Linked DNA regions of Homo sapiens. The protein of the gene in region 4 interacts with the protein of the main gene of each other region in a biochemical or structural test. Each region holds a gene or a part of one and is shown on either strand. Other genes may lie near its edges. The genes, in order: PROC, ACR, KLKB1 and SERPINA5.

Evidence for each region.
Region 1: the proteins of SERPINA5 (region 4) and PROC form a complex in vitro, tested with the Homo sapiens proteins (one study listed by BioGRID).
Region 2: the proteins of SERPINA5 (region 4) and ACR form a complex in vitro, tested with the Homo sapiens proteins (one study listed by BioGRID).
Region 3: the proteins of SERPINA5 (region 4) and KLKB1 form a complex in vitro, tested with the Homo sapiens proteins (one study listed by BioGRID).

Annotation. Positions count from the first base shown.
Region 1 is NC_000002.12:127,421,427-127,425,019, forward strand, and holds part of PROC (vitamin K-dependent protein C isoform 10 preproprotein), read left to right. Parts: coding exon 1-23; intron 24-1,490; coding exon 1,491-1,515; coding exon of another isoform or gene 1,516-1,607; coding exon 1,608-1,745; coding exon of another isoform or gene 1,746-1,847; coding exon 1,848-1,982; intron 1,983-2,110; exon of another isoform or gene 2,111-2,192; intron 2,193-3,273; exon of another isoform or gene 3,274-3,593. UniProt on the Homo sapiens protein: Protein C is a vitamin K-dependent serine protease that regulates blood coagulation by inactivating factors Va and VIIIa in the presence of calcium ions and phospholipids. Exerts a protective effect on the endothelial cell barrier function.
Region 2 is NC_000022.11:50,743,473-50,745,883, reverse strand, and holds the end of ACR (acrosin precursor), read right to left. Parts: intron 1,824-2,411; coding exon 1,678-1,823; intron 1,232-1,677; coding exon 677-1,231; 3' UTR 545-676; downstream 1-544. UniProt on the Homo sapiens protein: Acrosin is the major protease of mammalian spermatozoa. It is a serine protease of trypsin-like cleavage specificity, it is synthesized in a zymogen form, proacrosin and stored in the acrosome.
Region 3 is NC_000004.12:186,240,980-186,244,572, reverse strand, and holds part of KLKB1 (plasma kallikrein isoform 1 preproprotein), read right to left. Parts: intron 1-3,593. UniProt on the Homo sapiens protein: Participates in the surface-dependent activation of blood coagulation. Activates, in a reciprocal reaction, coagulation factor XII/F12 after binding to negatively charged surfaces.
Region 4 is NC_000014.9:94,584,426-94,587,925, forward strand, and holds part of SERPINA5 (plasma serine protease inhibitor preproprotein), read left to right. Parts: intron 1-2,920; 5' UTR 2,921-2,937; coding exon 2,938-3,500. UniProt on the Homo sapiens protein: Heparin-dependent serine protease inhibitor acting in body fluids and secretions. Inactivates serine proteases by binding irreversibly to their serine activation site. Involved in the regulation of intravascular and extravascular proteolytic activities.

The DNA.
Region 1 (3,593 bases), on a different chromosome or scaffold from region 4:
TTTTCCAAAATGTGGATGACACAGTAAGGCCACCATGGGTCCAGAGGATGAGGCTCAGGGGCGAGCTGGTAACCAGCAGGGGCCTCGAGGAGCAGGTGGGGACTCAATGCTGAGGCCCTCTTAGGAGTTGTGGGGGTGGCTGAGTGGAGCGATTAGGATGCTGGCCCTATGATGTCGGCCAGGCACATGTGACTGCAAGAAACAGAATTCAGGAAGAAGCTCCAGGAAAGAGTGTGGGGTGACCCTAGGTGGGGACTCCCACCAGCCACAGTGTAGGTGGTTCAGTCCACCCTCCAGCCACTGCTGAGCACCACTGCCTCCCCGTCCCACCTCACAAAGAGGGGACCTAAAGACCACCCTGCTTCCACCCATGCCTCTGCTGATCAGGGTGTGTGTGTGACCGAAACTCACTTCTGTCCACATAAAATCGCTCACTCTGTGCCTCACATCAAAGGGAGAAAATCTGATTGTTCAGGGGGTCGGAAGACAGGGTCTGTGTCCTATTTGTCTAAGGGTCAGAGTCCTTTGGAGCCCCCAGAGTCCTGTGGACGTGGCCCTAGGTAGTAGGGTGAGCTTGGTAACGGGGCTGGCTTCCTGAGACAAGGCTCAGACCCGCTCTGTCCCTGGGGATCGCTTCAGCCACTAGGACCTGAAAATTGTGCACGGCCTGGGCCCCCTTCCAAGGCATCCAGGGATGCTTTCCAGTGGAGGCTTTCAGGGCAGGAGACCCTCTGGCCTGCACCCTCTCTTGCCCTCAGCCTCCACCTCCTTGACTGGACCCCCATCTGGACCTCCATCCCCACCACCTCTTTCCCCAGTGGCCTCCCTGGCAGACGCCACAGTGACTTTCTGCAGGCACATATCTGATCACATCAAGTCCCCACCGTGCTCCCACCTCACCCATGGTCTCTCAGCCCCAGCAGGCCTTGGCTGGCCTCTCTGATGGAGCAGGCATCAGGCACAGGCCGTGGGTCTCAACGTGGGCTGGGTGGTCCTGGACCAGCAGCAGCCGCCGCAGCAGCAACCCTGGTACCTGGTTAGGAACGCAGACCCTCTGCCCCCATCCTCCCAACTCTGAAAAACACTGGCTTAGGGAAAGGCGCGATGCTCAGGGGTCCCCCAAAGCCCGCAGGCAGAGGGAGTGATGGGACTGGAAGGAGGCCGAGTGACTTGGTGAGGGATTCGGGTCCCTTGCATGCCAGAGGCTGCTGTGGGAGCAGACAGTCGCGAGAGCAGCACTGCAGCTGCATGGGGAGAGGGTGTTGCTCCAGGGACGTGGGATGGAGGCTGGGCGCGGGCGGGTGGCGCTGGAGGGCGGGGGAGGGGCAGGGAGCACCAGCTCCTAGCAGCCAACGACCATCGGGCGTCGATCCCTGTTTGTCTGGAAGCCCTCCCCTCCCCTGCCCGCTCACCCGCTGCCCTGCCCCACCCGGGCGCGCCCCCTCCGCACACCGGCTGCAGGAGCCTGACGCTGCCCGCTCTCTCCGCAGCTGGCCTTCTGGTCCAAGCACGTCGGTGAGTGCGTTCTAGATCCCCGGCTGGACTACCGGCGCCCGCGCCCCTCGGGATCTCTGGCCGCTGACCCCCTACCCCGCCTTGTGTCGCAGACGGTGACCAGTGCTTGGTCTTGCCCTTGGAGCACCCGTGCGCCAGCCTGTGCTGCGGGCACGGCACGTGCATCGACGGCATCGGCAGCTTCAGCTGCGACTGCCGCAGCGGCTGGGAGGGCCGCTTCTGCCAGCGCGGTGAGGGGGAGAGGTGGATGCTGGCGGGCGGCGGGGCGGGGCTGGGGCCGGGTTGGGGGCGCGGCACCAGCACCAGCTGCCCGCGCCCTCCCCTGCCCGCAGAGGTGAGCTTCCTCAATTGCTCGCTGGACAACGGCGGCTGCACGCATTACTGCCTAGAGGAGGTGGGCTGGCGGCGCTGTAGCTGTGCGCCTGGCTACAAGCTGGGGGACGACCTCCTGCAGTGTCACCCCGCAGGTGAGAAGCCCCCAATACATCGCCCAGGAATCACGCTGGGTGCAGGGTGGGCAGGCCCCCTGACGGGGCGCGGCGCGGGGGGCTCAGGAGGGTTTCTAGGGAGGGAGCGAGGAACAGAGTTGAGCCTTGGGGCAGCGGCAGACGCGCCCCAACACCGGGGCCACTGTTAGCGCAATCAGCCCGGGAGCTGGGCGCGCCCTCCGCTTTCCCTGCTTCCTTTCTTCCTGGCGTCCCCGCCTTCCTCCGGGCGCCCCCTGCGCACCTGGGGCCACCTCCTGGAGCGCAAGCCCAGTGGTGGCTCCGCTCCCCAGTCTGAGCGTATCTGGGGCGAGGCGTGCAGCGTCCTCCTCCATGTAGCCTGGCTGCGTTTTTCTCTGACGTTGTCCGGCGTGCATCGCATTTCCCTCTTTACCCCCTTGCTTCCTTGAGGAGAGAACAGAATCCCGATTCTGCCTTCTTCTATATTTTCCTTTTTATGCATTTTAATCAAATTTATATATGTATGAAACTTTAAAAATCAGAGTTTTACAACTTTTACATTTCAGCATGCTGTTCCTTGGCATGGGTCCTTTTTTCATTCATTTTCATTAAAAGGTGGACCCTTTTAATGTGGAAATTCCTATCTTCTGCCTCTAGGGACATTTATCACTTATTTCTTCTACAATCTCCCCTTTACTTCCTCTATTTTCTCTTTCTGGACCTCCCATTATTCAGACCTCTTTCCTCTAGTTTTATTGTCTCTTCTATTTCCCATCTCTTTGACTTTGTGTTTTCTTTCAGGGAACTTTCTTTTTTTTCTTTTTTTTTGAGATGGAGTTTCACTCTTGTTGTCCCAGGCTGGAGTGCAATGACGTGATCTCAGCTCACCACAACCTCCGCCTCCTGGATTCAAGCGATTCTCCTGCCGCAGCCTCCCGAGTAGCTGGGATTACAGGCATGCGCCACCACGCCCAGCTAATTTTGTGTTTTTAGTAGAGAAGGGGTTTCTCCGTGTTGGTCAAGCTGGTCTTGAACTCCTGACCTCAGGTGATCCACCTGCCTTGGCCTCCTAAAGTGCTGGGATTACAGGCGTGAGCCACCGCGCCCAGCCTCTTTCAGGGAACTTTCTACAACTTTATAATTCAATTCTTCTGCAGAAAAAAATTTTTGGCCAGGCTCAGTAGCTCAGACCAATAATTCCAGCACTTTGAGAGGCTGAGGTGGGAGGATTGCTTGAGCTTGGGAGTTTGAGACTAGCCTGGGCAACACAGTGAGACCCTGTCTCTATTTTTAAAAAAAGTAAAAAAAGATCTAAAAATTTAACTTTTTATTTTGAAATAATTAGATATTTCCAGGAAGCTGCAAAGAAATGCCTGGTGGGCCTGTTGGCCTGTGGGTTTCCTGCAAGGCCTTGGGAAGGCCCTGTCATTGGCAGAACCCCAGATCGTGAGGGCTTTCCTTTTAGGCTGCTTTCTAAGAGGACTCCTCCAAGCTCTTGGAGGATGGAAGACGCTCACCCATGGTGTTCGGCCCCTCAGAGCAGGGTGGGGCAGGGGAGCTGGTGCCTGTGCAGGCTGTGGACATTTGCATGACTCCCTGTGGTCAGCTAAGAGCACCACTCCTTCCTGAAGC
Region 2 (2,411 bases), on a different chromosome or scaffold from region 4:
TTGCTCAAATCCAGGAACTAATAAGATTTAACTACAGGCAAGTAATGAACAGGCTTGTTGGTGTCAACTGGACACTAACAAGCCACAAGCAAAATTGTGTTTGGTAGTAGACACTTGTTTTGGTGGCCTAGTGGCCTCCTTAGCCTTTGTGTTCTGGGGAGTTCAACCTTCATGCAGAATCTTCTCTGTGGGTGTCAACACCACCAGCCTCCTGATAGAAGACTTGGACCCACACCCCCTCTTTCCCCGTCAGCTCACTCACAGCTGCTGCTTTGGGGGTCCACCCCCTTTGACTTGCACATGCAGAGATGGCTCTTTTATTTTCACCATTTGTCGTTTCTCCCTAAGTGTGAAATAAAGACCATCCCCGGTCTACGGCCCCAGGTCACCTTATTCCAGCATTAAAAATCAAGATTTTAAAAAACACGATTGGCACTAATGTACAAGCAATTCCGCCTTATTGTAGGGTGAAGGAGAGAGGGTAGATTTTATAGGGGAAATTTGGGTTGGGAGGGGGGATAGGAAGAAGTCCAGAAAGCATCTCTTGATGTATATGCATGTATACATACAGATATGTGTGTGTGTATATCTATATATATATGTTTATTTATTTATTTCATCTTTCCTTTTTCTCAGGAGTGAAGGGCTCACTGGGTCTGTTGAGAACCAGGTCAGATCAGGAGGTCGAGGTCAGTTCTGGGAGCTCTGTGGTCTCCATGTCATAATGGTTCTTTCCGTCGGAATAGGTCTTCCCCTTCAAGACCTCTATGAGCTGCTGTAGGCGCTTGGCAAAAGAAAGTCCTTGGGGAAGTTTTGTGGTAGATGAGGGTGTAGGTGGGGGTGGGGGTGGGGGTGGGGGTAAAGGTGAGGCTGGAGGTGGGGGTGGGGGCGGGGGTGAAGGTGGGGGTCGGGGCTGGGCTGCCGGTGGTCGGGGTGGAAGTGGTCGAGGGGGCGGTTGGAAATACCAAGGAAGGTGAGCAGAGATAGGGTGGGAGAAGGGGGGTCGAATCGGGGGCGGTCGAGTGGTGGGAGGTGGAGGGGTGGCCGATTGAATCATACGCAAAGCGTTAGAACCAATCTTGGAGGCGATCCAGTTCAGATAGGGCCAGGTGGCCGTGTAGATTCCGGGGCGCTTGGCACGGGCACAGCCTACCCCCCAGCTTGTGATTCCCACGACCACATAGGCGCTTTCCTTGCTGTCTTTGCACATGAGAGGCCCGCCGCTGTCTCCCTGTCCAGAAGGACACAGAGGTCACTATCTGCCTGAGCCACTCTTCCCCTGCCCAGAGGGGTCGGAAGGCTCTGGGAGGACAATTTCCACAGTGACATGGTCTCCTGCTGCTGTAAACACAAGTGGTTGTAGTAAAGTTTGAGGGGGTGTCAGGGGCTTCATTTGGGATGTGAGGAGGGTGTGAATTGTCAGGGCTTTCCTTGCAGTGAGATGAGCAAACCCACGTGTCCACAGGGGCACATGGCAGGGGCAGCCGGTGGCTGTCACCGCTCATCCCCACTGTGAGAGTAGGTGCTAGAAAAGGGACCGGGGAAGCAGTCACTAGAGAAGGGCCCTGGGCAGAGCAGTGGAGATAGTGGAGCTTGGGGATCCAAAAGGAGGATGTTCTCAGGGGCCGGGAGAGTCCTGGAGGGACCCAGGGGCCCAGAAGCCAGAAGGAAGGTTACCTGGCAGGTGTCGATCTTGCCTACAGGATACCCCGCGCACACATTGGTTGGCTGAACGCGCCCATTGTACCACTGGGTCGAGTTACACAAGTCCAGGTCGATGAGATCCACACGTGCCTCCATCAGTATAGATGATGGCCTGGGGGCTATAGTCAGACCACTCGGTGGTCAGTGATCACGGGAGACACGGACAAAAGCCCTGCCTCCTTGCCCCACCGAACCCCATCCTCTGTGATGCTCCAGTTAAACCTCAGACCCATCCAGTCGATGCCCCGACCCCTCCTTATACACCAGAAAGAGCAGACTAGAGGTGGTGGGAGGAGGTGGGGAAATGTTATCCAAATCAAGGCCAGAGGAGAGAGGAAGAGAGGAAGGAAGGGTGGAGGCCCGTGGACAGGTGGATGGGGGGTGGGTGTGCGTATTAACGATGGATTATGGAGGTTAGTTGCAGTATTACCAATAACACCTAGTGTGCACCAAGCACTCCCTGAGTCACATGGTCCCGTTATTCCCATTTTGGATCAGAAGGCTGGAGCACCGCCCACCCAGGTCACAGTAGAGAGGTGGTGGGGCTGCAGCCTGGCCTCAGGACTGCTCCTCTCCAGACTCCAGTCTGAGACACACTGTCCACTCCCACAGTCTGGCTGTAAGCCACTCCCCCTGCTTCTTGTCCCTCTTCAGAACTCCTCGGCTCAGCTGCGGACGGGATCTGCTGCAGCTGGGTCAATAAGTCC
Region 3 (3,593 bases), on a different chromosome or scaffold from region 4:
TTGCACCCTTCATCCCAGCCTCTCTTCGCTTTCACTTGGACTGACCCTGACACCCGTCAGCCTCAGCAACTTACTTGGGCTGTACTGCCACAAGGCTTCGAGGACAGCCCCCATTACTTCAGTCAAGCCCAAATTTCTTCCTCATCCATTACCTATCTCGGCATAATTCTTCATGAAAACACATGTGCTCTCCCTGCTGATTGTGTCTGGCTCATCTCCCAAACCCCAACCCCTTCTACAAAACAACTCCTTTTCTTCCTAGGTATGGTTAAGTACTTCCGCCTTTGGATACTAAGTTTTACCATCCTGACTAAACCATTATATAAACTCACAAAAGCAAAGCTAGCTGACCCCAAAGATCCTAAATCCTTTAGCCACTCCTCTTGCCATTCCTTAAAAACAGCCCTAGAAACTGCTCCCACACTAGCTCTCCCTAACTCATCCCAACCCTTTTCATTACACACAGCCGAAGTGCAGGGCTGCGCAGTCAAAATTCTTACACAAGAGCCAGGACCACGCCCTGTAGCCTTTCTGTTCAAACAACTTGACCTTACTGTTTTAGGCTGGCCCCCACCCCCATGACTGTATCTCTCTGATCCACCTGACATCCACTCCATTTCCCCATATTTCCTTCTTTCCTGTTCCTTACCCTGATCACACTTGGTTTATTGATGGCAGTTCCACCAGGCCTAATCACCACTCACCAGCAAAGGCAGGCTATGCTGTAGTATCTTCCACATCTATCACTGAGGCTACTGCTCTGCCCCGCTCCACTACCTCTCAGCAAGCTGAACTCATTGCCTTAACTCAGGCCCTCACTCTTGCAAAGGGACTACGTGTCAATATTTATACTGACTCTAAATATGCCTTCCATATTCTGCACCACCATGCGGTTATATGGGCTGAAGGAGGTTTCCTCACTACACAAGGGTTCTCCATCTTAATGCCTCTTTAATAAAAACTCCTCTCAAGGCCACTTTACTTCCAAAGGAAGCTGAAGCCATTCACTGCAAGGGCCACCAAAAGGCATCAGATCCCACTGCTCAGGACAATGCCTATGCTGATAAGGTAGCTAAAAAAGCAGCGAGCATTCCAACTTCTATCCCTCACAGCCAGTTTTTTTCTTCCTCATCTGTCACTCCCATCTACTCCCCCATTGAAACTTCCACCTATCAATCTCTTCCCACACAAGGCAAATAATTCTTGGACCAAGGAAAATATCTCCTCCAGCCTCACAGGCCCATTCTATTCTGTCATCATTTCATAAACTCTTCCATGTAAGTTACAAGCCACTAACCCACCTCTTAAAACCTCACTTTTCCTTTCCGTCGTAAAAATCTATCCTCAAAAAATAACTGCTCAGTGTTCCATCTGCTACTCCACTCCTCCTCAGGGATTGCTCAGGCCCCCTCCCTTCCCTACACATCAAGCTCGGGGATTTGCCCCCGCCCAGGACTGGCAGATTGACTTTACTCACATACCCGGAGTCAGGAAACTAAAATACCTCTTGGTCTGGGTAGACACTTTCACTGGATGGGTAGAGGCCTTTCCCACAGGGTCTGAGAAGGCCACCGTGGTCATTTCTTCCCTTCTGTCAGACATAATTCCTCAGTTTGGCCTTTCCATCTCTATACAATCCGATAACAGACCGGCCTTTATTAGTCAAATCACCCAAGCAGTTTCTCAGGCTCTTGGTATTCAGTAAAACCTTCATACCCCTCACCATCCTCAATCTTCAGGAAAGGTAGAACAGACTAATGGTCTTTTAAAAACACACCTCACCAAGCTCAGCCTCCAACTTAAAAAGGAGGACTCTGTCAAGGATAGAGCCCAAAAACTCACCAACCAAGCAAGTAATTACACTGAACCCCCTTAGGCACTCTCTAATTAGATGTCCTGGGTCCTCCCAATTCTTAGTCCTTTAACACCTGTTTTTCTCCTTCTCTTATTCAGACCTTGTGTCTTCCATTTAGTTTCTCATTTCACACAAAACCATATCCAGGCCATCACCAATCATTCTATATGACAAATGCTGCTTCTAACAACCCCACAATATCACCCCTTACCATAAAATATTCCTTCAGCTTCATCTCTCCCACTGTAGGTTCCCACGCCGCCCCTAATCCCGCTCGAAGCAGCCCTGAGAAACATCGCCCATTATCTCTCCATACCACCCCCAAAAACTTTCGCCACCCCAACACTTTACCACTATTTCGTTTTCTTTTTCTTATTAATATAAGAAGACAGGAATGTCAGGCCTCTGGGCCCAGGCCTGCACGTATACATCTAGATGACCTGAAGTAACTGAAGAAAGACAAAAGAAGTGAAAATGGCCGGTTCCTGCCTTAACTGATGACGTTACCTTGTGAAATTCCTTCTCCTGGCTCAGAAGCTCCCCCACTGAGCACCTTGTGACCCCCCACCGCTGCCCGCCAGAGAACAACCCCCTTTGACTGTAATTTTCCACTACCTACCCAAATCCTATAAAACGTCCCCACCCCATCTCCCTTCACTGACTCTCTTTTCGGACTCAGCCTGCCTGCACCCAGGTGATTAAAAAGCTTTCTTGCTCACACAAAGCCTGTTTAGTGGTCTCTTCACACGGACGCACATGACATTAAATATATGCAATACTTCAGCCCAATGTCCTAACCTGTTAAAATTGTTTTTACTTTGCTTTTCCTATCTAATATGTTGGGCACTATTTATAGATATTTTGGCCAAGCAACCAGTTGATTTCTAGGACATTCTCTATTTCAAGTATGCCATCTGGTTAGCCTCCGAACAGAAACCATGATGTTGCTTCCCCTAATTGCAATTTTATCAACCAGCTTCGTTTATCAGACTTTCTTCCCCAGAGGTGATAAAAATAAAAAAACCTTTTTTTTCCAATTTATGTTTTCCTCCTTTTGGCTTGAAAATATGTGTACCATCTCAATTGATAAATTAATAAGTCACATGGTAGGAATTTTCCATGTCAGAGTTGCAAATGGTTTTGTTAAATTAACTGAGGAAACGTGGTTAGCCTGACATCTCTCAAGATCTATGCAGGAAGATGGACCACAAGAGAAGGAAATCTGTAAATATAATGAATTCATATGTGTTGAGAGGCAGGAGGCTTTAAAACACCATTAAATCCATTAAAAAAACAAAAGGTGGAGTGAGCACTGTGAAATGTGTGTGACCCAAGGGTCGAGTTCTGGTTCAGCTCATCAGCTGTGTTGCCCCCGGAGCACCTTCACTTCTACCCTCCTTCCAGGAGCCTTAGGGGTTTTGTTTGTAAAATTAGGAAAATCCTTGGTGAAACCAAGGACAAATCTGTAGTGATAACTACAGATCATCCCTAACTTATGAATCTCATTTGGGCAGTTAGGCCAGGAGACAGCCCTACTCTAGGTTTAGGAGGCATGTGGCTACTGGGTGTTCCCTGAGGAACGGGGACCACGTACTCAGTGAAAAGCCACGCCCTTAGCAGCTCAAAACACCACCTGAAACAGCCATATTTTTATCAGTCTGTAAAGGCCATTTGATCCGATTAAATCACATGTGAACTCACTGCAATTTAACAAGAAAGCAAGTACACAGATGAGCCA
Region 4 (3,500 bases):
GGGTCTCAAACATGTAGCCCAGGAGAGCCTAAGTGAACCTGGGGCCCTCTCCAAACAGATCCTGGGGGAGACTCAGTGCACACCCGGAGAAGCAGCTCCTCCCCATCGGATCTCTAGTGCTTGGCAGGGGGCGGGGTCTTGAGGGGGTGTCCACAACACATGGCAGACTGCAGATGAAGAAACTGAGGCCCAGAGGGGGTGAGGCTTGCCCAGGGTGACCTAGTAGCTGAATAGATGGGAGAATGGAGGCCAGGGCCTCACTGAGACTCTCTGGTCAGCTGCCCCTGGGCTGTATCCAATAAGGAAACTCCCCTGCTTCTGAAGCTGTTCTCGAAATTATCAGCTCAGTGTGACCCTGTGGGGGGTTGAGCCACATTGTTTCTTTAGAAGCATCTCCATACATGGCTGGTTCCAACCCTTGGCAGGAGGGACCATATTGTGCTGTAAAATAGACTCATTTAGAGAAGCCGGAGATTAAAGCACCCACCTATGTCCTTCAAAGCTCTCCAGGCAAGTGCCATGGTGGGAACAGGTAGGGAGTGTCAGTGGGGGGAAGCCCAGACTCTGCTCACTCATTATCTGCAGATTAGGGCTATTGTTGGTGGCTACTAAGTCAGGGATTTCAAAATCAGGAAGATGCAGCCAGGAAAAGAGGAGGCAGGACTCTGCAGAGGAGGCAGGACTCTGCAGAGTCAGAGTGATAACCGAGTCTGAGTCCAAGCTTTGCCAGTGTTAGCAAGCGACTCCATCTCTCTGAACCTCGGATTACCCATCTGTAAAATAGAGCTAGCAGCAAGATGTACCTTTTTGGGTGGTGCAGGGCTGAAGGAGTTGGCACAGTGCCTGAAAGAGGGTGCGGGCAATGCGCCCAACTGCTGTGGCTGCTGGGTTTGGTGCCAGGTTCGATTCTGCAGGCAGAAACTTCTACATGAGGCTCCTTCTCGGAAGGAGCTCAGGACACAATTTGGAGGCTGGGCTGGCAAGGGTGACCTGCTGGAGCTATTCAACTTCACTTAAAGACAGGCCTGCAGTCCAAGCCTGCCCAATTCCTGAGACCATTCTCTCTCCACTGCTGAGCCCCACGGCCACTCTGCAAGGGATTTCCCACCCACCTGTTTGGGGCCCTTTGGAGTTTGGTTTTAATTGGGTCACGGGATGCTGTGACAGGCTGCCCCTGCCTGGTGGGGATCTGGGGTCACTGATGACATTGTGCCCATGGAGAGAGCCCAGCAGAAAGGGATTCCCTCCAAGGCGACACACAGGGCAAAGCTCACATCAGAAGCCAGGCAGGCCCTCTGCACCTGGTAATTAGCCAGCCTGGGTGCTGTCAGGCTCACACGTGTGTGTGTGTGTGTGTGTGTGTGTGTGTGTGTGTGTGTAAAGCATGTACCCTATGGTACAGTTGAGAATATGGAGGCCTCAGATGGGGCTTTTGCCAGAAACTGCCATGCCTACTGCTCACACTTCCATAGCACGTGCCCCCAAGCACCCCATGGTGTAGGTGCTGTTATTATCACTATCTTACAGTTATGGAGCAGTGGCTCAAGGTGTAACTGACTTGCCCAAAATCACACTACAAGGACACAGCAGGGCTGAGATTTGAACCCAGGCAGTGGCTTCAGAGCCTGAGCTGTTTCCTACTGCAGAGGGAGGAGGCAAGACTTCTACCCGTAGCCAGATGGGGAGGCATGGGCACAGGAACGGCTCTTGGGTGAAGTGGAGGGAGGAAGAGGAGGACTGAAGGCCAAGGCCACGTCAGGAGTGATGGGAGACCCCACAAAGGCCTCCCTGAGAAGAGCTAGAGACAAAGATGAGTGCCTCCTCATCTGGAAGATGAAAAGATGTCTTTGCCTGCATGGGCTGCTGTCACAAAGTCCCAGGGGCTAGGGGGCTTCAACAACAGAAATTTCTTTCTTTACAACTCTGGAAGCTGGAAGTCTGAGATTAAGGCACCAGCAGGATTTGTTCCTTCCAAGGCCCCTCTCCTTGGCTCACAGGTGGCTGCCTTCTCCCTGTCTTCACCTGGTCTTCCCTCTGTGCATGTCTCTATCCTGATCTCCTCTTTTTAATTTTTGTGTAAGGACGTAGTCATATTGGGTTGGGGCCCACTCTAGTGACCTCATTCTAACTCAGTCCCCTCTTTAAAAGCCCTATCTCCAGATATAGTCACATTCTGGGGTATTGAAGGTAAGGACTTCAGCATATGCATTTTGGGGGCACAATTCAGCCAGAACAGGAGGACGGTGGGGATGTCCACATGAAGAGGTTCAGGCAGAATTCCTTTAGGAGGGGAAGATGTCTCTCTGTGGGACAAGGGTGGCATGGAGCAGCCCCTGGGGGAAGGAGAAGGGGACAGTTTGCATACTGGTATTCTGCCTACCCCAGGGTGGACACTCACTCAGCGTTTGCTGAATGAACAGGGCAAGGCCAGCAGTGCTGATGGTCCCAGGCATGTAGCTGGTCTGAGTTCATAGAAGGACCACAGCGCCCTGCCATGTGCCAAACCAGGACACCAGAGTGAAGGCCAGAAGCTCACATGGAAGCAGCTTAGTTCCCTGGTAACCTCGAGATGCTGATGAGACAGAGCAGAGCAGAGGGAACCCTCTCCCTCCATATCCCATCCTCCAAAATGTGTCCCTTGATGTGGATGGGTAGACAGGATTCCTGCCCTGGCAGCCAGACCCCTGCCTTGGGTCTGCACCTCCTCTCCCTCCTTCCTCTCCCCGTCATCCCTAAATCTTGTCCTCGAGCCACTGCCACCCTGTGTAAACCCTCATGCCCAGTCTTGCGGGTGCCATCCCTTCTCTTTGAAGCTGAATGGACCAAACATACCCATTGAGTGTTGGGTGGGGACATCTCTGGAAAGTCAGCACCTGGACCAGCTCCACCCCTCTCTGAGGACACCTTCTTTCCCTTTCAGAACAAAGAACAGCCACCATGCAGCTCTTCCTCCTCTTGTGCCTGGTGCTTCTCAGCCCTCAGGGGGCCTCCCTTCACCGCCACCACCCCCGGGAGATGAAGAAGAGAGTCGAGGACCTCCATGTAGGTGCCACGGTGGCCCCCAGCAGCAGAAGGGACTTTACCTTTGACCTCTACAGGGCCTTGGCTTCCGCTGCCCCCAGCCAGAGCATCTTCTTCTCCCCTGTGAGCATCTCCATGAGCCTGGCCATGCTCTCCCTGGGGGCTGGGTCCAGCACAAAGATGCAGATCCTGGAGGGCCTGGGCCTCAACCTCCAGAAAAGCTCAGAGAAGGAGCTGCACAGAGGCTTTCAGCAGCTCCTTCAGGAACTCAACCAGCCCAGAGATGGCTTCCAGCTGAGCCTCGGCAATGCCCTTTTCACCGACCTGGTGGTAGACCTGCAGGACACCTTCGTAAGTGCCATGAAGACGCTGTACCTGGCAGACACTTTCCCTACCAACTTTAGGGACTCTGCAGGGGCCATGAAGCAGATCAATGATTATGTGGCAAAGCAAACGAAGGGCAAGATTGTGGACTTGCT